4 linked regions of the Homo sapiens genome follow. The protein of the gene in region 1 purifies or fractionates together with the protein of each later gene. This does not show direct contact. Each region holds a gene or a part of one and is shown on either strand. Other genes may lie near its edges. The genes, in order: TXNDC2, SLC25A31, SLC25A15 and VPS54.

Evidence for each region.
Region 2: the proteins of TXNDC2 (region 1) and SLC25A31 purify together in Homo sapiens (affinity purification with mass spectrometry; one large-scale study listed by BioGRID and IntAct). This does not show direct contact.
Region 3: the proteins of TXNDC2 (region 1) and SLC25A15 purify together in Homo sapiens (affinity purification with mass spectrometry; one large-scale study listed by BioGRID and IntAct). This does not show direct contact.
Region 4: the proteins of TXNDC2 (region 1) and VPS54 purify together in Homo sapiens (affinity purification with mass spectrometry; one large-scale study listed by BioGRID and IntAct). This does not show direct contact.

The regions. Positions count from the first base shown.
Region 1 is NC_000018.10:9,882,466-9,891,490, reverse strand, and holds TXNDC2 (thioredoxin domain-containing protein 2), read right to left. Parts: upstream 5,519-9,025; 5' UTR 5,411-5,518; exon of another isoform or gene 5,317-5,410; coding exon of another isoform or gene 5,208-5,316; intron 4,903-5,207; coding exon of another isoform or gene 4,811-4,902; coding exon 3,350-4,810; 3' UTR 2,216-3,349; downstream 1-2,215. UniProt on the Homo sapiens protein: Probably plays a regulatory role in sperm development. May participate in regulation of fibrous sheath (FS) assembly by supporting the formation of disulfide bonds during sperm tail morphogenesis.
Region 2 is NC_000004.12:127,733,400-127,736,899, forward strand, and holds part of SLC25A31 (ADP/ATP translocase 4), read left to right. Parts: intron 1-3,500. UniProt on the Homo sapiens protein: ADP:ATP antiporter that mediates import of ADP into the mitochondrial matrix for ATP synthesis, and export of ATP out to fuel the cell.
Region 3 is NC_000013.11:40,799,724-40,806,763, forward strand, and holds part of SLC25A15 (mitochondrial ornithine transporter 1), read left to right. Parts: exon of another isoform or gene 1-1,001; intron 1,002-5,394; coding exon 5,395-5,532; intron 5,533-7,040.
Region 4 is NC_000002.12:64,007,429-64,015,761, forward strand, and holds part of VPS54 (vacuolar protein sorting-associated protein 54), read right to left. Parts: intron 5,027-8,333; exon of another isoform or gene 1-5,026. UniProt on the Homo sapiens protein: Acts as a component of the GARP complex that is involved in retrograde transport from early and late endosomes to the trans-Golgi network (TGN).

The sequences.
Region 1 (9,025 bases):
AATGCCTTCATAGAACTTCGCTTTGCCTCCTCCTTTGACTTATGTTAAGAATGCTATTAAATCATCTTAAGAATCTACTATCACAATAATTTTTAAGGATATTTTGAGGTCATTGTCAATGACATTACTTAGTAACCTAAATATAAAAAGGGACCTTTGACAGAAATGTCTTTAATATTATGGTACCAGAAAAAGCAGTTAGTATAAGTCACTGATGTTAGATTTCAGGGGCCCTGGTCCTTAAAATTGCACAGTCTAAAGTGTTGTGGGAGGCTGGGTACAGTGGCTCATGCCTGTAATCTCAGCACTTTGGGAGGTCTGGGTGGGAGGATCTCTTGAGATTAGGAGTCTGAGACCAGCCTGGGCAACATGGCAAGATGCCAACTCTACAAAAAAATATATATTTTTAAATTAACCAAGCGTGGTGGCTTTATCTGTAGTCTCAGCTACTTGGGAGGCTGAGGCAGGAGGATCACTTGAGCCTAAGACCATAGTGAACTATGGTCATGCCACTGCACTCCAGCATGGGCAACAGAGTGAGAATATGTCTCAAAATTAATTTAAAAGTGTTGTGAGGCTCACTAAGTTATCTAAACAGGACTCTGGTAGCACAATGTTTGGGTTAACTGGTTAAAGTCTAGGCCTATATGTCTAGGCTGGTAGAGTCATGTTGAAGCTAACCTTGTTCATTATGGAAAATAAGAACAAATTTGATTGAAAAAGTCAGAAGAAGGTCTCTCTATCAGAGGGAAATAACAGGTGGATATATGCACTGTCACTAAAAGCCCATTTCTATGAAAATGCAGTACACCTGAATCTAGAATCCTCTCGTTGAAAAGCCCTTTGCCATTATGGCTTCAGCTTTTACTGAAGAGTCTTACCAAGAATATCCACATGAAAAACTGTCCTGAATTTATTATAGAAAAATCTTGTCAAGAACTTCGTTTATCATCGAAGTCTCAAATGTAGTGTCCAAGATGAGAAATGTCATTCAGGAATTTAGTTAAGGAAAAGCTTTGACTCTTTTGCAAATTCCTAAGCCTGCTTATTTTGGGTGATGACATCTGGGTATTATTGAATTTATCTCTTCTCTCTCACTTGCCAAGAGTTCAGAACAAAATTTGCTGCTCTAACAGAGCCATGATACGAGCCCACAGAGTTGACACGTTACTCACTTCATGGCTCTGATTCCTCTTTCTGGTTCGTTAGCTTTATCATTAATCCTTTTGTAGGCAATTCCAAATTTTTTTGGAAAAAAGGCCAAGCATATAAGGTATTTCATTTTGTTTGCAGTTGTTAGGCCATTGTTAAGGGTGCAAATGAAGCCTATAACTGAGGTACCACTAAGGAGAGTCACGATAGGCACATGATGGAAGGAGATGGGGCAGTCTTGGTCCTCTTTTTTTTTTTTTTTTTTTTTGAGACACAGTCTCACTCTATCACCTAGGCTGGAGTGCAGGGGCACGATCTCAGCTCACTGCAACCTCTGCCTCCCCGGTTCAAGTGATTCTCCTGCCTCCTCAGCCTCCTGAGTAGCTAGGATTACAGGTACCTGCCACCACACCCGGCTAACTTTTGTATTTTTAGTAGAGACAGGGTTTCACCATGTTGGCCAGGTTGATCTCGAACTCCTGACCTCAGGTGATCCACCCACCTTGGCCTCCCAAAGTGCTGGGATTACAGGTGTGAGCCACCGCGCCCAGTCCCAGTCTTGAACTTAAGATAGGGATTGCAACTCAGCTGGCTAAGTGAAGAAGCCAGCCAGGTTCTGCAGCAGAAGACTGGAGAGAGTGCGCCCTATCAGATGGAGGCAGCTGCCGCTCAGACCCGAAGGTTAGATTGGTTTTCTTGAGGTAAGGCAAGCCTGGATTGCCAGATCTTACAATTTTTCAAGAAAAGCTAGACATCTAGATTTTTTTTTTAAATCCTGATATTTGAAATGTTGGCAACAAATTCAAATTTTTAAAAACACTCTGGACCAGCAAAAAGTAGAATGGTGACTGCCAGAGGGTGGGGGAAGGGGCAACGGGGAGTTGTTCGATGGGTGTTAAATTTCAGCCACACCGATGAGTAAGTTCCACAGATCTGCTGTGCGGCATCATGCCCCTAGTTAACAGTACAGTACTGGGCACTTAAAAATGTGTTAGGAGAGTAGATCTGTTAAGTGCTTTTACCATGATAGTAATAACAATAAAGCACAGTGACACAAGGAAACTTCTGGAGGCAATGAAGGTGTTAATTACTTTGATGGTGGAGATGGCAATCAAGGGCATATGCAACACATCCAAACTCATCCAACTCCCTCCATTAAATATGTGCTGTTCTTTGTATATCAATTATACCTAATGAAGCTGGTTTTATTCATTTTTAAAAACCCACTCTGGACTAAGCCTCTGTCTATGGTTCAGACCTGGGACTTTGGGCTCATAGACATCTGGGGCTCACTAAGTTGTCCAAACAAGACTCTGGTAGCACTGTGATTAGGTTAATTCATTAAAGTCTAGGCCTATATGTCTAAGCTGGTAGAGTCATGTTAAAGGCTGGCTTGTTCAATATTGAAAATAAGAACAAATTTAAGTAAAAAAGTCAGAGGAAGGTCTAGGTATTATGAACTCAATTACCAGGGAGACGAACCAGGAACTCTGCCATCAGGGCACTGATGTCATAAAGGCAGCAAAGATCCAGAGGACTTCAACCTCCGAGAAACCTGAAGTTCCGACCTCTTGTCTGAGATTTTGTGAGCGTAGATTATAGTAGGTAGAGCCCTGGACTTGAAATCTGGAAGCGGCCTTGATCTCATTTCCGTCACCAACAAATCAGATCTTGGAAAACCCACTGAATTTCCCAAGGCCTCCGTAGCACTTCCGGCACAAGAAGGAGGTTAGCTAAGATGTGAATCTTTCAAATTCCTTATTTCCAAACATATCTTATCAGAATCCCCAAAGATGTGTGACATGAGAAAAGAAGTTTCCATTCACCTTTCAGTCATCTACCTCTATAGAAAAATTATCTAAATTTTCAGTCTTGCTGCAAACACTAAATGCGTGAAATTTTCAAAGACAAGTGAAAAATAAATACATATCAAGATTGAAAAATAGGAAACCATGGGACTTAGCAGTCTTCACCATGGGAATTTCTAATTTTATACTCTCCCACTAACAGAAACACAGTCGCAATGTACTTTAATGCTTGGACTGTTTTTTGAAAAGGGTAGAGTTAATATTATCATGTACAAGCAGTGCCATTTGGACATACACTTTTGTTATACCTGATCACTTTGTGTAAATAATAAAAGAGAACTCAAAAGCTATAAACACCTGACTGTCTGCAATGTTTTCAGAATACATGTTTACTTTAATTCTGCAATGACTGCTTCAAGTTTTTCCTTAAGGGCGCCGCAAAGTTCATCCACCTTTTCTTCTTTTTTATAAAACTGAAAGGTTGGGACACACATGATGGCGCACTCTCTCACCACCTCCTCACAGTTGTCAGCGTCCACCTCCAGGAACACCACATCCTCATGCTTCACAGACAGGGCATGGAAGAATGGTCTGATGGTCCTGCAGGGCCCACACCACGTGGCCGAGAAGTCCACAGCCACCAGCCTCTCCCCGGCCTCCTTCAGTGATGCCTCAAAGTCCTCCTTGCTCAGGATCACTTTCACCTTGTCCCCCTCCGGGAACTCCATTGTTTCTTCTTCAGGCTTTAGGATGTCACCCTCCTTGGATGGGGTGGCTTCTTCTAGGGACTTGGGGCTGTCATCCTCCTTGGGCTGGATGGTTTCTTCTGGGGACTTGGGGATGTCAATCTCCTTGGGTGGGATGGCTTCCTCTAGGGACTTGGGAATGTCACCCTCCTTGGGCTGGATGGCTTGTTTTGGAGACTTGGGAATGTCACCCTCCTTGGGCTGGATGGCTTCTTCTGGGGACTTGGGGATGTCACCCTTCTTGGGCTGGATGGTTTCTTCTGGGGACTTGGGGATGTCACCCTCCTTAGGCTGGATGGCTTCCTCTAGGGACTTGGGGATGTCACCCTCCTTGGGCTGGATGGCTTCTTCTGGGGACTTGGGGATGTCACCCTCCTTGGGCTGGATGGCTTCCTCTAGGGACTTGGGGAGGTCACCCTCCTTGGGCTGGATGGCTTCTTCTGGGGACTTGGAGATGTCACCCTCCTTGGGCTGGCTGGGCTTCACTGAGGCCTTGGGAATATTGCCCAGCTTGGGCTGGATGGGCTTTGCTGAGGACTTGGGGATGTCACCCTCCTTGGGCTGGATGGTTTCTTCTGGGGACTTGGGGATATCACTCTCCTTGGGCTGGCTGGGCTTCACTGAGGTCTTGGCAATATTGCCCAGCTTGGGCTGGATGGGTTTTGCTGAGGACTTGGGGATGTCACCCTCTTTGGGCTGGATGGCTTCTTCTGAGGACTTGGGGAGGTCCTCCTTCTTGGATTGGATGGTTTCTTCTGGGGCCTTGGGGATGTCACCCTCCTTGGGCTGGCTGGGCTTCACTGAGGCCTTGGGAATATTGCCCAGCTTGGGCTGGATGGGTTTTGCTGAGGACTTGGGGATGTTACTCTCTTTGGGCTGGATGGCTTTTTCTGAGGACTTGGGGAGGTCCTCCTTCTTGGATTGGATGGTTTCTTCTGGGGCCTTGGGGATGTCACCCTCCTTGGGCTGGATGGTTTCTTCTGAGGACTTGGGGCTGTCATCCTGCTTGGGATGGCTGGTGTTTGCTGAGGACTTGGGTAGGTCATCGCCCTCCTGTGAGGCATCAGACTCCTCTGTGCGCATGTGGAACGTGTGGCTGACCATGGGGAGAAAGGCCTTCTCTTTGGCCTGGGCTATTTCCAAGAACTCTAGGGCCAGGAGAGGCACGTTGCTGGACAGGACTAGTAATGAGCTTTCTGTACCAAAAAACATAAAATAAAATAAAATAAAATAAATCAAATAGAAATGCAAAAGAAGAACCAAAGAAATTCTCTTCATATTCCAAGGAAGACTGATGTCACTCTTCGAGATCACGAATGAAGTCTGATGAATGATGTATTAATCTGAAAAACTCATTCAGCAGAAGGACAAACAGCGTGTGGTTACACGTATCTTCTGTATACATGTTCTTAAGCTACAACTTTCCCTTCTTGGTTCAACACCCTGCCCGCTCCCTAACTGCATAGGTCTTTAAGGCAACCCTCTTTCCTCCCCTACTTACCATTAGCATCACCTTCACTTGTTTCTTCCTGAGTGCCCAGCCTCATTTCTGGTTTTCCAGAGGCTCCAGCTTTAACACTTTCCATTCCTAGTTCCTTGTCTACATCCATTCCTGATCCTTCATAGATGCCTCATAGTAAAGGCCGTACCCTCCAACTTTTTCCAAGCTATCCATCCTAACATCAAAATATGAGTAAAACTTACATTTGGGTGGCACGTTACAGTTGGTTTTCCCTCTCTGTATTCACAACAGTGATATTTGAGAGCTTCAAGGTGGCTCCCCTGTGCTGAGGCTGGGACTACGCATTCACTGGCATCATTTCCTAGAACACAACAAACCACTGAGGTCAGAACCATTATGATGAGTAGTTTACACATGAGAAGCTATGTAGCTCACTTAAGGTCACAAAGCTAGGGTGGGGGCAGGCTCCAAAGCTCATGCTCTGCACTGTGAGGCTGTGCTGGACTGCTCGCCACAAGTCCCGTCCAGCCTGGGTTCTGTGAATCAACCATCTTATCATCTTTCTCCAGGATCCCCCAGCTCCAACATTCTCTTTACGACTCACCCATTGTGACCAGCTCCTAAGTATCTCCTCGAAACCATGTTAGCCTCCTCTGCAAAGTGTCCCACAATGTCAAATGTTCAGCTCCTGCTAGACAGCCTCTTTCCCCACCTCCCCCACCTCCCAGGCGCACCAGCCCAGCCTGTGCCCTCCCCCATGCAGACACATCCAAGTACACGGCTCTTCCAGCCTTTACATACAGGAGAACAACCTCTTTGTGAATAATCCTGGTTCCATAAGCCACATCTACCCCATCCTGTGGAATGGGAAGCCAAATACCTGTCCCCCAGGGAGACTTATTTTATTAGTTCAGGACCACTGGCTCATTTTCCACCCTCACTCTGCACAACACATCCAGTCCAAGGCAGGAAGAATCAGTGTGGAATTTTGCCTTCTCTACATGTACTTTGAACAAATCCTCATATGTTTCAGTTTCACCCCAACAATATAAGTGTTGAAAGTGGTCAGGCATGGTGGCTCACACCGTGATCTCAGTACTTTGGGAGGCCAAGGTGGGAGGATTTCTTGAGCCCAGGAGTTTGAGATCAGCCTAGGCAACATAGCAAGACCCCATCTCTACAAAAAATACAAAACCTAGCCAGGCACAGTGGCACACGCCTGTCCCAGCTACTTGGGAAGCTGAGGTGGGAGGCTTGCTTGAGCCAGTGAGTTCAAGACTGCAGTGAGCCGTGATCACTACATCGTACTCTAGCCTGGGCAACAGAGCAAGGCCCCGTCTCTAAAAACTAAAAATAAAAGTGTTGAAATCTAAATGATAAGACCTCCACATTGTCAATAGAAACCTCGAAACATCTAATGGCAATGGTTCAATTATCTGGATTTTTATACCAAAACACATTTTACTAAGGGGTAGAGAGACTATTGGCCTTAGCAAATCCATAGTTCCTTTTTTTTTTTTCTTTGAGACAGTCTTGCCCTGTCACCGAGGCTGGAGTGCAGTGGCACAATCTCGACTCACTGCAACCTCTATCTCCCAGGTTCAAGCAATTCTCTTGCCTCACCCTCTCGAGTAGCTGGGATTACAGGCATTCACCACCACACCCGGCTAATTTTTGTATTTTTTTTAGTCGAGACAGGGTTTCACCATGTTAGCAAGGCTGGTCTCTAACTCCTGACCTCAAACGATCCACCTGCCTCAGCCTCCCAAATTGCTGGGATTACAGGCGTGAGCCACCATGCCTGGCCCAGCAAATCCGTAGTTCTTGATGATATGAATCCTGTTCCAGGAAGAGCTCATGCTTCCACTCCGTTTCCTCGGTTACTGCCAAAGAAAGCTCTTCCCTCTCTCACTGGGAGACTTTGGGCCTTTCTTATGTGATATTTTAAAGGACGGGAGGTTGTCTTCACTCTCCAATGCCAACGGCTTCCACAGCTGACAGGACTGTTTTTCATGGTGCCCTATTTTAAAGCAGAGGATGAAAATAAACGTCAGGCACTTATCTGGGCAATGTCTTCTTTCTTAGTGTTAGGAGAAAGGAGGTGAAGCGGGGAGGATAGGCATCATTTGCAGAAACCATCATGAGCAGATTTTATTAGCACAAAGTGGGCAGCATCTTTGGCCCTTGCTCATTGGTAAGTTAATTTACTTCCTGGGACCCTATCTTGTACAGGGTCCCTGCTGTTTGGAAGGGAGTGGATGAGGACACAGAGGAACTCCATCGCTGAGAGGCAGAAGTGAAAACATCACTCCTGCCATCCCAGTAGATGTGGAGGCAAGAGGACAGATGCCTGTGTCCCGGCCTCCTTTCTCCAGGTTGATTGCCAGCACAGATACTAATCAGATGTGCTACTCTACTAAAAATGCGATTTTAGATCTCTACTAAAAATACGAAAGTTAGCCGGATGTGGTGACAAATGTCTGTAATCCCAGCTACTCAGGAGGCTGAGGCAGGAGAATCGCTTGAACCTGGGAAGCAGAGGTTGCAGTGAGCGGAGATGGTGCCACTGCACTCTAGCCTGAGCAACAGAGCAAGACTCTCTCAAAAAAAGAAAAAAAAAAAAGATAAAAAAAGACTTGCAGCTGAAAGCAGAGGGGCATCTGCCTCCTGCTCCACTTGGAAGGCCAGGATGAGCCCACGTGGACTTCACATCCAACACAGCACTGTCCTCGTGCAGCGTGGCCCCTAGTAGAGGGTAAGAATGGATGTGTGGACCTGGGGCAGGCCCCACAGCCTGCAGGGAGGAGGTTAAAGATCTAGCAACGATGTACACCTCAGAGAGTGGCTGGGAGTGCTCTGAGACTGGTGAAAGATAGAGGCCTAGAGGAAGAAGACTCAGAGGAGGAGGATCTGTGACCAGAGGCAAGGACTGGAATCACAGACTCCAGCAGTGAGTAACATCACGATGCCCCTGTCCTAAATGGAATCAGTGGGTCCTTCAAGAGATCTCAGGCTGGGGACCAGGCCAGACCAGCCAATTCACATGGGAAACCAGCACGGGACCAGAGCACCCGGCACGTTTATCCGTGTAGCCCTGGGCATCCAGACACTATGGACAAAGTGAGAACTCTGAAAGATTGCACCGCTACACCATGGAAAAGGGTTCTTTGAGCCAAAATTCCACAAACAGGCAAACTTAATTCGGTTTCCCTGCTCCTCACCATCCCACCCCAAAACCCATTGAGATAAGGCTCATGGGAAGGATGAGCCATTCTAGAGAAATGTATAAGTGATATTGTACCTGAATGTCTTAGTAAAAGAGAGGAAATCTGTGATCCTGTTACATTTATACTTGGAGATCTTCGTTGTGTTTTAGGTTTGGCACTTGTTCCTGATATTTTTACTCTTCCTTCTGCAATTCAGATGAATTCCAAGCAACTTGAAATATTAATTCTTCCACTGACTTGTCATAAAATGTATGTTTTCCTTCAGCAGAAGCTCATTCCCAAATAGCTCATGAGCCCTTATGTCACTCAGGTTGTGTCTCAGGAAACAGAAACAACCAGCTATTTTAGGCCTAGGATTATTTGGGCAATTATAAAACTGCTGGCGAGGCTGCCTGTTTAGGCTAGGTATCCCGGAATGATTCCCAGAACACTGAGCAATGATACAGAACAGGCTTGCCAGGATCATTACAACCTCCAGGATATCAGGAAGATAGGGAATTAGAAGACCACCACCCAAACTGTTAGCTTTAATAACCTTCTGCTACAGCCACCATCCAGGGGTGAGTCCGCCCCAGCCCCAACTCCCTCTGAGCCCAGAGATGGAGATGAGTTCTGGTCATCTGTTCCAAC
Region 2 (3,500 bases), on another chromosome or scaffold:
TGCCCATGATGTCAGTGCTCAAAAAGTTTCAGATTTGGAGAATTTTGGATTTTTGGATTAGTGATGCTCAACCTGTGTCATCTGTATTTGTAGCTATTGAATCTATGATGATTGTATGTATACTTGTACACATATTTATTTGACGTATTTCAAAATGTCAATATGCAGTTAATTACAACTGAATCGTTATAAGTAGAGGCAAGCTTGACTATTATATTTTTGGTATGGTCATGACCTACCAACTTCCTTATTTTAAAACATAAATTTCTTGCAATTTGCCTTCTCTTTCTTTTTTGAAAGTCAAGACACATGCACATCTCAGGTGTCCTGAAGATTGTTTTTATGTTTTCTCTAATTTTATTCACAACTTTTCCTTTCTTTAGGCCATGTGAAATGAGCTGGAGAAAGAGATATGAACACAGAATGCACAACTAGATGCTCTCTAGTTTCTTACCTTATCTCTACTTTCTTTCCATTACAAGAATAGATCTCTGCATTCTTGCCTTGAATATAGCTTTAAATATCACTTTGAGTGTTTCTGACACTTTTTATAAGCTTTTCTTGGCTTATGAAAGCTTCTGGATTTATCCTTATGTTGTTCTTAAAGATTTATTATATTCTTTAGTTGGTTTTATCACCTGCCAACTTTGTATGTGTACTTTTATTTAACACTGTTTAAACCTTTATTATGCAAATAATGCATAATTATTGTAGAAAATTAGAAAATATAAAGAAGCAAAAAGTAACATCACTGCTAAAGTCACCACAATTAACATTTTGGTTTTTCACTGAGCAAAATATACATATGTAAATATGTGTTTAATCAAAGGAACTGTCTTATTAGTATATTGTAAATGTAGCCTTTTAAAGAACTGATTTTCTGGGTGTGGTGGCTCATGCCTGTAATGCCAGCACTTTGGGAGGCAGAGGTGGGCAGATCACTTGAGGCCAGGAGTTCAAGACCAGCCTGGCCAACATGGTGAAACCCCGTCTCTACTAAAAATACAAAAATTAGCTGGGCATGGTGGCGCACGCCTATAGTCCCAGCTACCTGGGAAGCTGAAACACAAGAATCACTTGAACCTGGGAAGCACAGGCTTCAGTGAGCCAAGATCGTGCCACTACACTCCATCCTGGGTACAGAGGAAGACTGTCTCAAAAAAAAAAAAAAAAAAAAAAAAAAGATCCGTACAGTCTCATTTTTACAAGCCTATCCAAACTCTTCTCTTTTAGGAGTTCCGTGTCACGAGTTTATCAGCTTTCATCTAAGCTTTTCCCAAACCCATTTTTCTGAAGACTTAGAACAGTGAGGTTTTTTAATATCCTAGGGTCCATCTTGAAGATGCTATTTTGGGGTATGGGAAGAAAATATTAGGTATTTTATTTATATGTACTTTAAGTAAAATACAAAAATAAATTTTACTGATATTTAATATATAAATTGGCATTGTCCCCTATGCTTGGGCCCAATGTCAGTTACATATCACGGGACATTAAGGGATCCTGAAAAAAAGAGTGGGAGTTACACAAGGTAGAGGGAATGACAAGCACCCTTCCTCAATAATATATTATTGTTTATGTTTGCCCAATTAACTGGATTTATAGATTCTATTATCAGGTTTTAACTAAATCCTCAAAACATGGACAAAACTTTGAAAAAGATTCTGCCGTGAAAACCAAATCAAGGGTAACACCAATATCAAATGATGAACCACAAGAAAAAGCTGATGCCATTTACTCCAAGAAATGGCGTATTATTTCATCATTCACATGACATTCAGTGTAGAAACAATGACAGTCTAATTGGACCTGAGACAAGAAGACTATTTGAAATATAGATTCCTATATACTATTCTTAAAAATGAACTTCACCCTAACAGTGCCTTGAGATAATAGTAAATGGTGGTGTGAAAGCATCATAATTAGCAAGATGTTTGAAAATATTGTTTTTCATCTTTTAAATAAATGTTTAACTTTGCTCTAATATCATCTAACATTCAAGTTTCCCTAACAACCCTATCTAAATAGCCTTTTATTATTCCCAATCTTCATATATTGTTTTTTTGTTTACAGTTTTTTATTGCTAACAGACATAGTTATTTGCTACCTGTCTCCCTGGTCCCTCCCTCTTAAGATGTAAGCTCCATAAGATCAGGAACATTGTTCCTAGTGCTGTCCCCAGTAGGCACAAAATGTCTGCTGTGGAGGAGGTACCAAATAAAAGTTTTTAAATGAAAAATCTTTATCTCATTCTTTAATTTATATTTTGAGTATGTTTTACAGATGTACATAATATGGTAGTATAGTTGCAAAGGTATATAATTTATTAATGTATACTATTTGGAAGTCATGCAGACTTTTTTTTTAATTGATAGGCATATCATCAAAACATGTTGAACCTCCCCTGCAAAAAAAAAAAAAAAATGTTGGTTTAGACTGTATATCCAAACATGCCTAACATTCTTTTATTTTATTTATTTATTTATTTATTTATTTATTTTTTTTTTTGAGACGGAGTCTCGCTCTGTCGCCCAGGCTGGAGTGCAGTGGCGCGATCTCGGCTCACTGCAAGCTCCGTCTCCCGGGTTCACGCCATTCTCCTGCCTCAGCCTCCCGAGTAGCTGGGACTACAGGCGCCCGCTACCACGCCCGGCTAATTTTTTGTATTTTTAGTAGAGACGGGGTTTCACCTTGTTAGCCAGGATGGTCTCGATCTCCTGACCTCGTGATCCGCCCGCCTCGGCCTCCCAAAGTGCTGGGATTACAGGCGTGAATGCCTAACATTCTTGTTCTTGGCAAGGCCAGCCAATAAATGGCCCAGTAACTTTTTCCTGTCACTTTTATTTCAATTCTTATTTATTTGTTCAAAATTAGGTTCAGAGCAGGTTTTTCTCATCCTTCTTAAATTTTGAAGAAATTTTTTTCTTAGGAATTAGAAACTTAAACTTTTATTTATTTATTTTACTTTTAATGGAGAAAGAGGTCACCATCACTATATTTTTCTCTACCAATTTTGTGATATATATTAAGAAACCATCCATTTATTCTGTATGACTAGAGAGTCAAAACGTTCCTGCCATTGTATCACTTCTGCTTTAACCTTGTTTTATTCTAACCAAAAAATACTGTTTTATCCAGAATGGATTTTTATATAGAGGCAATAGAAGTGCAGTAACTCTAGACCTCGAGTCGAATGGACCTAGAACCAAGTCTCAGCCTTTCCTATATCTTGTAACTTTGAACAGTTTTTATTTAACCTTTCTCAGCCCCAGTTCCCTCAGTGGTATACTGGTATAATAACTATACCTATCTGATACGGTAGTTGTGAGGATTAAAGAAGATAATGCATGTAAAATATTCAACATGTGTCTACACCATAGTTAGTGCTCAAGTAATTGTTACTAATGTGTATGTGTGTGTTCCTGAATTTATAAACATGTACTCCAGATGTTCATTTGTAAATGAAATAATTTGGGATAAACTTGCATTATGCATAGAGT
Region 3 (7,040 bases), on another chromosome or scaffold:
GTTCAGATGCAGCTGGCAGTGCTACCTCTCGTCAGCAGACATGCTGCACTGAAACTGTAGATGCTGCTTATGATCCAAGATTTAGCTTTTCTTTCATTAGCAAAAAGCAGAGTATTGGAAGAGGTTGTCTGAGCCAGATGAACTTGAGGAGTTTTAGGAAGGGTCGGAAATGTCTGCGAAGATGCAAGGGAACCCACCTTTCTCTGTCCAAATCTTCCCAAAACATCAGACTTTGCCTCTTTGTTGGTCTTGCCTTGGGTATTTATTATATAGAGACTAAACAGAATTTGGAAACCACTGGGATGTTTAGCTATCCCTGCTTTGAATGTTGATTTATTTTATACCACTTAAAATTATTATATAAGCTTCAAGATTGCAAAGGGCAGTCTTAGTTATTTCAGTAGGAGTTTGAAACCTGATTGCAGCTGCAGGTCCCACACAACTGAATTCGGTTTCTTGTGCACAGCACTGTTCTCTGGAGGTGCCTGGAGGTCTGAAGGTGTGCCCTTTTATAGACAGGAATTCCACCATGATGGGTAGAGCTTGTTTTTTAAAAAGGCTTGGGACTAGATACGATTGCCCAAGAAGACAGTGTAGACAGCGAGGAGGGCTGAGCATGAATGGGATGAGCCTCCAGCACAGAAAGGGCAGGCAGGAAGGCAGTAAAGAAACAAGCAGGGCACAAACCAGGAGAGTATGGCATGCCATGATGGAGACTGAACAGAAGCAAAAACTACAGGCAACTGTAGTTTTGTTCCCTGTTGAAGGAGAGACACTCTATTAGAGAAGACCTGGAATTCAGTTCAGTTTCCTTAGCAAAGGACAAAATGGGGAGAGAAGACAGGGAAACAGTAAGCAGCCACGTGAGATTCTGGGGAAGACCTGTGTCTTCTGAGCAAAGTAGCCCCTCCAGCCACAGGATAGACAGTGACTTCTGTCTTGCATGAGTGAAACCACTGGATCTGGCTCTGCCCGCCCCTCCACTTTCTTGCTTCCTTAGCCTGTGAACAAAGTGAAGGACAGGTAAGAGCATATTGCTTTTCTGCTGAGAACAATCTAATACCTTACAGCTGCATTTTCCCACACTGCTTTCAGAACATTGAATTGCTGGGTGTCCTTAAGAAAGGGTTGGGAAATTACGTCACAGTGTCTCTCTCGTGAAGAATCACTCTGGGTACATTTATTTCATATAGTGTATGTGTTATTTAGTTCATTAAAGATGCGTAAGGCTGGGCACAGTGGCTCACGCCTGTAGTCCCAGCACTTTGAGAGGCTGAGGTGGGCAGATTACTTGAGCCCAGGAGTTTGAGACCAACCTGAGCAACATGGCAAAACCCCGTCACTACAAAAAATACAAAACTTAGCTGAGTGTGGTAGCACATGTCTGTGGTCCCAGCTACCAGGGAGGCTGAGGTGGGAGGATTGCTTGAGCTCAGGAGGCAGAGGTTGCAGTGAGATGATGCCACTGCACTCCAGCCTGGGCAACAGAGCGAGACTGTGTCTCTCAAAAAAAAAAAAAAAAGAAAAGAAAAGAAACCATCCTGATTAACCTTGTCTAATCCAGCACTCATCTTTTTTGAGCTTGGGCCCGTTTTTTTTTTCCATCCTGAGGAACAGTGTTTGCCTCTTACCTGTTGGGGAAATGCTCTCTTAGAGTCTACAAAGCTCTGACATGTATATCATGTCTCTATAGCCCTCACCGTGATCCTGTGAGAAGAGCAAGGCAGATGTTACCTCTCTTAGGGATGGAAAACTGAGGTGCCGATGTTGACCTGCTCAAGGTCACCCCGCTAAGGACTTGAAATTGTGTCCTCTGAGCTCCTGCCCAGTCTCCTTTCCATCAGACCACAGTTGGGGGTCTGGAATATTTTATAAGGGTCAGTTCTAGAGAGAAGATTAATCAGGAGCAGTGAAAGGAAAGAACTGCTTGTGAGAGCCTGTGGTGAATTTCTGCAATCACATTGTAAATATTTGTCTGTTCCCGGTTTCAACATGACCCAGAATGTTCTAGTTTGACGTTTGGCTGGACAGGGTCTTACATAGCAGGAGTGCTCAGGTACATGTTTGTTGAACATATGACAAATGGATGATTCTTACAAAATCCCATCCTATACCTATTACTGTTTCAATTCCAGTTCTACACATTCATACTACATGCAGAACCAGGGGCCCATGCACCTCCTTCTGTGCACTGGTCAATGAAAGTATTTATTGGAAAGCCAAAGTCCACTGCATATCTGATTTGACTGTGTCCTTGCACTATAATAATGTGCTTGGTGTTCATTCAGATGTCTGAGCCATTATTATATCTTAAACTCAATAGACTTCTACATTTATTGACTGCCACCTTTGTCCTGGCAAACTTGGCAGATCCTGGTTAATGCTCCTAATTGACTATTGCCTGTCAACAGGTTAACAGAGAGTCCCTGAGGGAGGCCAACTGTGGATCTGCAGGCTGGCTGCAAGACAACAGAAACCATTTTAAGCTTCAGTTCTAACAAGCTGCTAAGGAGTGAAGTGGGGGAAAGGAGTGGACTGAACAGCATTGGATGGTTTCCACACCCCATAAAAGCGTGTGCAAGTACATTTGTGTACCTGGTTCTCCTTTGCTAATGGTTTTAGGCTTAATTCTCTAACATCAAAAGGAAGTCCTTACTGCAAACAGTGTCTTCCTACTGAAAGAAAGCTCCACTCTAAGCCAAGTCTTCTGAAAGAGTTGCCTCTGGCCATGGTACAGAAGCTAGACCACCAGGGACTAGCAAACCAGGGCCAAGACTGGTGCCACCTTGATTTTATACTAATCTTTAACACTGGAAAAACTTGAGTACCCCTGAATATGGTAAGTCCATCTGTGCTTTTTTTTTTTTTTTGAGACGGAGTCTCACTCTGTCGCCCAGGCTGGAGTGCAGTGGCGCAATCTTAACTCATTGCAACCTCGCCTCCCCAGTTCAAGCAATTCTCCTGCCTCAGCCTCCCGAGTAGCTGGGACTACAGGCGCCCACCACCATGCCCAGCTAATTTTTGTATTTTAGTAGAGATGGGGTTTCACCATGTTGGCCAGGATGGTCTTGATCTCTTGACCTCGTGATCTGCCCACCTCGGCCTCCCAAAGTGCTGGGATTACAGGTGTGAGCCACCGTGCCCTGCCCCATCTGTGCTTTTGCTCACAGTTTGGAGAAAAATTGTTAGGGGATTATATCTCTACCTGAGTAGTTAGCTGAGGAGATTCCCACCCACCCTTAGGGGTTTTTGGAAATCTCTGAGGGTGATCTTGGCTGTCCAGTGAGAGCATGATGCTGGCATTGAATGGGTGTCAGGGAACCAGTTCAGTCCTTCCTGCCCAATGAAGGATTGTCCTACCCCCAAATGCCAGTCATGATCCCATGACACAACACTCTTCTAGGGCTGGAAGGGATCTTCTATCCCAACTCCCATGAACCAGGAACTCGCAGAGAAGCCTTTCTTCTGAAACACTTCTCAGACTTTTCCCCGTATTCGTTTTTTTTTTTTTGAAAGAGTCTCACTGTGTCACCCAGGCTGGAGTGCAGTGGCATGATCTTGGCTCACTGCAACCTCTGCCTCCCTGGTTCAAGCGCTTCTTGTGCCTCAGCCACCAGAGTAGCTGGGATTACAGGCGTGCACCACCAGGCATGGCTAATTTTTAGTAGAGACGGGGTTTTGCCATGTTGGCCAGGCCTCAACTGATCTGCCTGCCTTGGCCTCCCAAAGTGCTGGAATTACAGGTATGAGCCACCACGCCTGGCCTCCCCATATTCTTGAACTCTTACTGGATTCCAGTTTCACAACCCTGCTGGTGACATTTGGCTGCTGGTACTAAATCCATACATGAGGTGAATGCTTCTGTTTTGTATTTGTGCATTCATCCCTCTGCCTAGTTTAGATTTCCAGTTTAGCAATTTCACCTAATACCATTGAGCTTGCAGACTTGTACTGGCTTCACCCACTCCTGTGGCACCATTTTACCCTCGTCTGTGTTGCTGAGGTGGTAGGTCACCAGTTGAACTGGAAAATCTTTTTGTGATGCAGCAACTTTTGGTTAAACGTTTTTTCTGGGTTTTCATCTGTGGCAGTTACATTGCACATCTGGTTGCTCCAGGTTGGATTGTGGGCATGTGGGGATAGGCTTAGAACCTAGATTTATTTAAAACTTAGGGCAGACACACTGAAGTATTAATAGTGCATGTTTTTCAGTGGGGGACTATGGGCAATATTTTCCTCCTTTCCTTTAGGTTTTTTTGTGGCGTTTTATTTTGTCATGTCACGATGTATCTTGGCTTTGGCTGTTGTAACAGAATACTACAGATTGAGTGGCTTAAACAAACATTTCTCACAGTTCTATGGTCTGAAAAGTCTAATATCAAGGTTCCAGCAGATCTGGTGTCTGATGAGGGCTTGTTCTTAATTTGAACATAGCCGTCTTCTCACTGTGTCCTCATATGGCAGAGAGTGAGCGAGCTCTCTGGCCTCTTCTTCTAAGGGACTAATCCCATCACAATGGCCCTATCCTCATGACCTCATCTACACCTGATTACTCCCAAAGGCCCCATCTCCTAACACCATCACCTTGGGGGGATAAAATTCAGTCCATAGCGCTGTGTGTAATCAAAAGAATATGGTTGTTGCAGTCAGGAAGACCTGGGTTCACATCCTAGCACTGCCACTTAGTAGCTGTGTGACTGGCCACATTATGTCATCTCTAAGTGTCACTTCCCATAGGGAACTGGGGTGCTGCTGTCTGCTTCATAGGGTTGTGGGATCCTTAGATGAAACAGCACATGCAAGTTTCCTTCCTTTCATCATTTTTTTTTTTTTTTTGAGACGGAGTCTCACTCTGTTGCCCAGGCTAGAGTACAGTGGCACAATCTCAGGTCACTGCAAGCTCTGCCTCCTGGGTTCACGCCATTCTCCTGCCTCAGCCTCCTGAGTAGCTGGGACTACAGGCACCCACCACTACGCCCGGCTAATTTTTTTTTTTTTTTGTATTTTTAGTAGAGACAGGGTTTCACCATGTTAGCCAGGATGGTCTCGATCTCCTGACTTCGTGATCCGCCCGCCTCGGCCTCCCAGAGTGCTGGGATTACAGTTGTGAGCCACGGCGCCCGGCCCTTTCATCATTTTTTTAGACATGGAGGTCTCTCTTTGTTTCCCAAGCTGGAATGCAGTGGCTGTTCACAGATGCAGTCATAGCACTGTAGCCTAGAACACATGGGCTCAAGTGATCCTCCCACCTCAGTCTCCTAAGTAGCTGTAATCACAGGTTCATGCCCTCACGCCCGGCTCCTTACCCTGCTTTATCACCAAAGTGCTGTCTGTGTGGTGAGTGCCAAAGGAATGAAGAAACTGAGGGGTAACTGTCTGCTTGTGTGCTTTCAGTGATCTGCAGAATGCAGCCGCCGGTTCCTTCGCCTCTGCCTTTGCTGCACTGGTGCTCTGCCCCACGGAGCTCGTGAAGTGCCGGCTGCAGACCATGTATGAGATGGAGACATCAGGGAAGATAGCCAAGAGCCAGAAGTAAGCACCACTTGGGCACAAACGTCAGGTCTCTATTGCCCTAGTGTATTGGATGATTTTTCATTTTACATTGTACTAAAGTGGCAGATGTGGAAGCCAATTTATCTACTCCAAAATATTGTTTCTAGAATGCTTTCCCCTATCAGAGATTTTCTGAAAGGATTGGCTGTGATGGGACCCACCACCCACTGCATAAAAAGTCTTAGACAGATATTTAATACCCCAGAACTGGAGAAGCCAGGAGCTTAACACCCTTTTTGGCCTCTTGGAAACATAAGGCATGATCTTCAGCCATTTTTGGAGGTACATAATGGGTGGCTTTTGAACTTTGCCTTAGACCTGAGCCTTCATAAGTGCCAATTTGGATTCTGAGATGAATATTTGATCCCCACTTCAGGTTTCGTATGGGTATTCAGGCTGATTGACCCAGATCCTAGAGGTAACTATTCTTACCCCACTTATCCCCAGTCCTTCAAGTGTACCTGCAGATGGCCCAAGTTCTGAGAACATTAATCAATACTTTTATAAGCATAGCTACTCTTCAGTGATTAAATCACTCTCTAGCTCACTCTTGAAAACACATTCTCATTATCCTTTGAGAGTACTGTTTCATACACAATTTGATTTACTTGAATTGGAAAGCAATTTATTATCCTTATTAATTGCAAAACTTGCTTACTTATCTTGACATCTGGCTGAGTTCTGACCAAGGATATTGCTGTGGTTAACTCAAAGCCTATAAATCTGCTGGGAAAAAGCAGTAGATAAATTGACCATTTTCAAGGATCAGTCCCCACTCAGTGAGAATGGGGTTTGGAAAAGTGCCCTATTTTCTGCACCCTTGAGATTCATTACAGCCAACTTGAATCTAATATTCATTGCCTAGAAGTCCAAGAGTGTAAGTCTTTAAAACTTTTTATTGAAATAATACACATAGTATCATGAATGCACATTGAAGTCACAGTATGCAGCTCTATAAATAGTGACACAATTTATGTGCCTTTGTAACCTGTGTCCAGATTAACAAATAGAACATTAACAACACCCAGAAAGCTGCCCTCATGTTCCTTGGAAGTAATTCAAGGTAATTAAAAGATAGTAATAGTTATATCCAAAGGACTTAGGCAGATCAACACCTTGAATTATCAGTTGACTTTGTATTTGAGGTCTAGCAGTGTTCACACAAGGCATGGTATGGTAGCTTGGGGCTAAGACTCGGATTGGAAGGGAGGTTAATTGTGTTGAGCTGGATTACTTTGTTACATTCCATGTAGCAGTGCTGCAGGAAGGGCTGGCTGATGGGGAATACCTGACAGTGTCTTCTGAAGCTCTCAGAAGGAAAATAGTTTTTAAATGTCTGTGGCCTTTATTACCTTGGGACTTGATCCTTCATCTGTCCAAGCCAAGTCTCCTTCTTGCTGAGAACAAAGTGAGGAGAGAGGGATTCACTAAGTTGCACTGAGTATGTGATTTCTTGGCCTGTTCTTAGCAGGGATAAACCTGCCCTG
Region 4 (8,333 bases), on another chromosome or scaffold:
GAATATCTGGCTTGACTTTCTACTTCATATATAAATCCTTTCTACAAGGTGTCTTTTTGCCTCTACTTGAAAACTTCAATAATGAAGAATTAACTACTTTAAAAGCAGAGTACTACTGTAAAACAACCATAATTACTTTGGAGAAAAAATATTCTTGTAGTGAACAGAATCCTGCTTCCCTGAATTTTCCATTACTGCTTCTAGTTCAATTACATTACAGGAATGAATTAGTAGATAACTACAGATAGTCACAGGAAAGTGATATTACAAATGGAGAAAGTGCCGAAGAAGAGAGCTAATGAAAGCTCTGAAGAAGGGGTAGGGCAAATATGTTTAGAGGAAAAGACAAAGGCAATCAGAAATACCATCCTTACACAGGGAAGATGTGTCAGGAAGTAAAGTGCGAACAGTAAGTAGCATCAACATGCTGCAAAGAGATCAAGGAGATTACTAACTTTAGAAAGGATACTGGATTAAGAACAGTTTCAGGACAGTGGTTAGGGAAGAAGCAATCCCACTGAGGTTAAGAGGTAAGTGATGAAGTAATAAAGGCAACAATATCAACATCTCTTTGGTGGTAAAAGGAAAAAAAAAAAAAGAACAAGAGTTGAGCAAGAATCTTTTAGGCTATCGGAGACCTGACCATATTTGTAGGCAAACAGCAAGAAGCCAATTGAAGGGTGAGATTAAAGAGGAACAAGAGGCCGGGCGCAGTGGCTCATGTCTGTAATTCCAGCACTTTGGGAGGACGAGGTGGTTAGATCACCTGAGGTCAGGAGTTCAAGATCAGCCTAGCCAACGTGGTGAAACCCCATCTCTACAAAAAATACGAAAAATTAGCCGGGCATGGTGGCATGCACCTGTAATCCCAGCTACTCAGAAGGTTGAGGCACAAGAATCGCTTGGACCTGGGAGGCAGAGGTTGCAATGAGCCAAGATCATGCCATTGAACTCCAGCCTGGGTGACAGAGCGCGACTCCGTCTCAAAAAAAAAAAAAAGGAACAAGTAAGTGGTGGAGAAAGGAGATGGTCAGAGTTACATACACACAGGAATGGGGCGAGAGGGGATGGGAAAAGGAGAGGCAAAGTGAGAAAGAAAGAATATCAAGCCCAGGGACTAAAAGGCACCTCAGGTTTATGTCACACCTTGAGAAAGACAGGACTTTGTCAGTCAACAGTGAGAAAATAAGCAGGCTGACCTAGAAAAGTTGCCTCACACCCTACTCCTGTGCCCAATGTGTGAGTGGGAGGAGGAGTGGAAATCAGCTGGGACTGCAGGCTCTGAAGGTTCTGTGAAGCGCTAGATCAAGAGCATGTAAAAATACGCTATCAATGAAAGAAGGAAGGATGACAGGGAAGAATGAAATGGAAAGACAAGAAGAATTGCATCATCACTAATATCTGACTATACAGTCAAATACAGTGAACACTATACAGTTCATAATAGCTTACTTTCAGATGTTTTTGTTCATCTTCAAAATAACCTAGTAAGAAAAATATTTCTGAATGAATCAATGAATCAACGATCTCCATTATATGAATGAAGAAACAAGTTCTAGAGTAACTTGATTTCAGACCATTCAGTGAGTTAACTGTGAAGAGGGAATCTGAATTCAGATTTTCTGATTCTAAGTTTCATGCCTCTGTCTCTGCACCAATAAAAAAATTTTAAATTATGTCACTACTCCTTCCCACCCATTTCAGGCTCCTGGTGCTTTCCTCTTCTGTCTTTGTCTCCTTATCAGATCAATGACTGAATCAATAATTATTTACTCTCATAACTGTTACTTATGTTCATCTTCTATTGAATGATAGAAATAATTAACATCTAATTGTGACAATTTTATAAGACCAGGACTATTCCAAAAGAAAAAAGATACTATACATTTTCTTTTCTTTTTTTTTGAGATGGAGTCTCGCTGTGTCGCCTAGACTGGAGTACAGTGGCAAGATCTCAGTTCATAACAACCTCCGCCTCCCGGGTTCAAGCGATTCTCCTGCCTCAGCCTCCTGAGTAGCTAAGACTACTGGCACCCAGCACCACACCCGGCTAATCTTTGTATTTTTAGTATAGACAGGGTTTCACCATGTTGCCCAGGCTGGTCTCAAACTCCTGACCTCAGGTGATCCGCCTGCCTCAGCCTCCCAAAGTGCTGGGATTACAGGCGTGAGCCACCATGCCCAGCCTACATTTTCATCAGTGTAATTTACTGCATTTTTCTTACCAAAGGAGTAATTGTGCACCTGTAACGTGGGATAAATATACTACTTTGGCGCATCATTTTAGCACTTTCAAGAAAGTTTGAGCCCAAGAAGTTGAGGCTGCAGTGAGCTGTGATGGCATCACTGCACTCTGACCAAGGCAGTGGAGAGAGGCCATTTCAACAACAACAACTTCTGAATTCCATATAATTGACCCTTTTTTTTTTTTTTGAGACAGTCTCGCTCTGTCACTCAGGCTGGAGTGCAGTGGCGTGATCTCGGCTCACTGCAACTTCCTGCTTCTGGATTCAACTGATTCTCCTACCTCAGCCTCCCAAGAAAATGGGACTACAAACGCCTGTCACCTTGCCTGCCTAATTTTCGTATTTTCAGTAGAGACGAAGTTTCACCATGTTGGCCAGACTGGTCTCAAACTCCCGACCTCAGGTGATTCGCCCACCTCGGCCTCCCAAAGTGCTGGCATTACAGGCGTGAGCCACCGCGCCTGGCCCCATATAATTGACTTATAAATGAACTTTTTTAAAAAAAGTCTATTTATAATTTGAGAAAACATGGATAAAGTGGAATTTCTTTTTAACACTGGAGCTGGACAGAGCTTTTTTGACATAATTTTGATACAATTTTGGACCTAATTTTTTTAAAAGTCCACAACTGACTGCTGTTTTTTTAAAAGCAAACAAAAAAATCTCAAATTTCATTTCTCCAAATTTACAAGTACTGATAATATGCAAGAAAAACTTAACCACACTGTAATGTCCTACCAAAGATCAGTTTGACAGAACTCAGGAGTTTATGTTACCATAGTAAAAACTCTGCCCCCTCCTTTCTCCACCACCTTTTCTTGTTCCTATTTAATCTCATCCTTCAGTTGGTTTCTTGCTGTTTGCCTACAAAATACATCAAATATCTCATGTTCTAAGAAGTACTTTCCACAACATTTTTGAAATGTAAAAGCCAATTTCTGGCAAATGTAAGTTTTTCATACTACCTATACACAAATAGCAATATACTTCTACACTATTTATCATTTGACAAAATCTAGTTTAATCATAATTTTTAAAAATCTTTAAATTTTTTTAAAATGCGTATCACATATTATTGCTCACAAAAATCTCAATATTGAAGGTACAATTTAAACATAATCTCAAGAAATACTAACATTGGGGCTGTCATATAAATAAGTACTTCTATAGTCCTCTTGAGCATTAAAGAAGTATGGAAGAGGCTTAAGGAACCCAGAAAATAAGAACAAAGTTGTAGTAATCTAATTTTCTTTTTCTTTACATCCTCATATGGCATTTATGAAACCCTGTGCTTTGCAGGAAACTCTGAATGCATGCGCTTCCTAAAGTTGCTTATTTACTTTTTATTTAGTGACAAGAAACAATAAGAAATAATATTGACTAGGAGGATAAAAATTATAACAATTTGTAATGTTAAATTTAAATATTTTTAAATGGCTTATAAAACAAATGCTATTTCATGTGATATCTTTATCAGGAAGAAAAATCATAAATATCCTCATAAAATATATACTTTTTAAGTCTAGATATTATTCCAAATAAAAGCAATGTCTTTTTTTCCCCAGCACTCAGAGAATTATAACATTATAGCAGCCATTAAAATTAAGGGGAGGCCGGGCACGGTGGCTCATGCCTGTAATCCCAGCACTTTGGGAGGCTGAGGCAGGCAGGTCACAAGGACAGGATATCCAGACCATCATGGCCAACATGGTAAAACCCTGTCTCTACTAAAATACAAAAAGTTAGCCGGGCATGGTGGTGCACGCCTGTAGTCCCAGCTACTCGGGAGGCTGAGGCAGAGCAATCGCTTGAACACAGAACGGGGAGGTTGCAGTGAGCCGTGATTATACCACTGCACTCCAGCTTAGCAACAGAGCCAGACTCCATCTCAAAAGAAAAAAAAAATTGATTAAGGGTCACAGGCCTGGAATATGAATAAACTATACTAAGATAAAATCTGTCTCTAGCATGTAAAAATTCCAACAACAACAAAAAATAGCTTGGATGCTTTCTTACTCCTTTGGGCCACTGATACGATTGTATTACTAGTGAAATTTTTGTCAGTCAAAATGAACCATATTAGACACTGGTATTCTCTTCTTGGTGTCCCAGCCAAAAATATTAGCAAGATAATCTTAAAATCTCTCATTCAGAGGTACTGAAGAATAAATATGTCTCAAATATATAAACTATTAGATACTTATTAAGTAACAAAGATGATGCTTTCAAGGAATTTTCATTTTAGGGAAAATAAAGCAAAATAGCTAAGAAACATCTGCAATAAGTCAGTAAATAGTTTACAAATAAAAATATTAAATGTTAGTTTAAGGGAAAAGTAAATACAGGGTTTATGATTACTATAACCTCAAACAAACAATAAATTAGTATTTTAATTAATCACTCCTTGGCATTACCCTTGCATCTCTCACCACTGGTTGGCTATCTTAGCCCTGCTCTACTTTACTAACTTCATTACTTAGCCTACATCCCCATTACTTCATCTCCCTTGCATCTCTCCTCCCTCATCCACCTTCAATACAGTGTGTCTTTGCTTTTCTCCTGCTTGCAGAACACTGCCAGAAAAAACAGTAAAATATGCTGATTACAAATTTATGAGTTCCAATCTCAGATGAGCCTCTGATGCTGCTCAGCAATTCTTTCACTTATTTATCTTGAAACACTTCTCTTCTCCATTCCCCACAATATGTGGAACATTTTCATCACTCTCCTCAAGTCCCCTAGCCTACTTCCAACAACGCAAGGCTCAAAAAGTAACTGTTTAAAAAAAAAAAAAAAAAAAAAGTCCCCAGATGTAGTTTTTTCCGTTCATATCCAAATGTACCTAATTCTCATCTATACACAACTCTTAACTTTCTGAGATAGAGTATAGGTGTCTACTCTTTTCCAGAGTTAATCCCCCAACAGCTGTTTTTGATCTTACCTCTTCCTGCTTCATCTGGGACCTTTTTCTATTAGTTATTCCCCAATTCTATCTTTAATCTCTTCATCGGCCCATCAAAAAAAAAAAAAAGAAAAGAAAATTTCAAGCACCAAATGAAGGCCCTTTCCCTCCTCCCTGCCTCCTCCAGCTACTACTTCTCACCTCCCCTTCATTGGCAAACCTCCGTTCTCTTTTTGGTCTACTTCCTTAGCTGTCTTCCATCTTCACCATTTACTTGGCTCCAGAAAAGGTTAGGAATGACCTGATTTCTACATTCCGTGGCCTATATTCAGAATTTATCTAACCTGACCTCAATGCCCTGAAAAAGTCAAAGAAGGTAATAAAAGTAGAAGGAATGCAAAAAGAAAAGTTACCATTTGTAATCCTCCAACATAATGACTGATTCAAGCAAGGATCATTAATGGGTACCAAAATCACTGGTTAAAGGGTTGTCAGGGAATAGGATATTTACATGGCTATTAAGTATCCTCTATAAATTATTTATTAAACAGTAGAGAGATCTGTCAGTTCACCTTTACCAAGTGATCAAACTTGCATTACCGATATAGTGATAGCCTGAAATCATGTGCCTCCTGATGTAATACAGCAGAAATACACATCATCTGTGTGATGGTCTCACCAGAAATGTCTGACTAGAATCTAATCATGAGGAACAGACCAATTCAGAATGTGGAACATGCTCCAGGACATATGGTCTCTACTTCTCAATGGATAAACCTAAAGAAGAGAGGAAGGCGGTAGGACTAGTCCAGATTGGGGGAGACTTAAAGAGACATACCAGCCAAATGCAATGCATTAACCTTGAATGAATCCTGCATTTGAGGGGGGAAAAAGCTATAAAGATTTTTGGGACAAATGGGAAGATTTAAGTATAGAGTATACATCAAATAATGTTATTAAGTAAATGCTGATATATATATATGATATATATATCAGCATTTATATATAAATATATATCAATATATATCATATGATATATATCAGCATTTATATATAAATATATATCAATATATAGATATATATTGATATATATATCTATATATTGATATATATCACATATATAGAGATATATATATCATATAGAGAGATATATATATATCATATATAATACCAATCAATACCACATTACTTATTCTGAATATTGTCTGCAACTATTCCACCCTCAAATTACCCCATAAAAATCTTACTGAATAGCTGGGCCTTTGACCACCTCTACCCTTATTTTTATATGATTCTGAAAGAAAGGTGACCAGTTAACAAAATTTTAAGAAACCAGCCAGGCGCGGTGGCTCACACCTGTAATCCCAACACTTTGGAAGGCCGAGGCAGGTAGATCACAAGGTCAGGAGTTCGAGACCAGTCTGACCAACATGGCGAAACCCTGTCTCCACTTAAAATACAAAAATTTGCTGGGCGTAGTGACACGCCAGAAAGATGAAAAATAATTTTAAAAGAAATCTAGAAGGAAATGAGATTTTACAAATGGTGAGCAGGCTTACAACCCCTATTTCTTCAGTTAAATTCTCACATCTGAAGAATAATTACCTTCAGATAATAGAAAAACCCTTCAAATACACAGGAAGGCAGGCATAGTAAATGAAGACAAAAGGATTATTCCCCAAAAGGGAATTAATCCAAATAACGACAGCATACTCTTAAAAACACTAAAACTTTTTGAATAAGTCACTTCCAAAAATTTTAACTCTGAAGTAAAATATATATATTTTCAAGTCTTCTCAAATAGCATATTTGAAAACAAGGTAATCTTTTCTTAATAAGTTAATTTCACCATTATAATAATCAGTTATTTTACTGTGCTATAACGGTGATACTCTCAGGTGCTACAGAAGGAAGTCAGTTTGCCCCTATATTAAGGAGTTTCAGATTATAGTGATATACTAGTTATTTTACTAGTTTGTTATCAATATTTGTATTTAGTGCTTCTCTCCTCCCTAGAGAGGCTGTCAGCCATCACTATTCTCCGCCTTACTATCTACATTCCTGCCTTTGACAACCTCTATATTCCTTCCTAATTTGATTCTTCTGAAGCGAATAACTCTTCTACAGTATATTATAGTTGACACTGCATCTTAATACATATTACCTCATTTAATAATTCTTACAATAGCCTTGTAATACATGGATTATCACTACCCCTATTTTATAGATGAGAAAACTGAGGCTCAGAAAGAATAACTTGAGTAACTTATCCATAAGGTATGGATGATAAATAGCAAAAGTGATCTCAACTGTCAATTACCTTCTTTCATCAACAAATTAAGCTTGTTAAAAACATTAAATAGTCTAAAGTGGAGCTCATAGGGGAAAAAAAGATTCATTATAAGCTTGGAATTTTTCTGGACATTCACAACATACATACATACATACATAACATAAGTGTTATACATACATATATAACATAAGTGTTATCCATAAAGTTAAACACTTAGCTTACTTCTCCTTTCTTGGTAGTTGAAGCTGCCAGGAAAAAAAAAAATCACTTCTGGATAAAAAAGATATGACTATATTCTATTTACAATTTCAAAAACATATGCAAAAATAACAATTCAAAACAATAGTAGTCCAAATTTGCAGTAAATTAAGTCTGTTTTTAGAAAAAAAGGGGTTCTTTTTTCAGATTTGAAGACAACCTAAACATACGAAACAGTATCTGCGTCATGTCGTAAACAGATTTCCTTTTATTTTTCCCTCAATTCCTCCTCTTGCAAAGAAATAGAGTTAGTTGCTAGAGGATCTAAGGTGTTAATCTAATTCACCAAACATCGCCCACTGAGACTATTCTCCCACCTGGTAGGAATCAAAAACACTAGGTCCTTACCAGAAATCGTGCAGCCCCTAGGTTTACAATGGTACCATTGACATTTTGAACCGGATAATTTCTTGCAGAAGTATGTCCTGTGCATTGTAGGGTATTTAGCAACATCCTTGGCCAATACCATTTCCTTCAGCTATGACAACCAAAAATGTCTCTAGACACTGCCAAATTTCCCTTGGAGTCAAAACCGTCCTCGCAGAGCCATTGTTTTAGATGTTAGGGCACTGGATATTTGAAAAAGGAAACCTCCAACTGGCCCTGTTAATTATATTTTTTTAAAATTTGGATT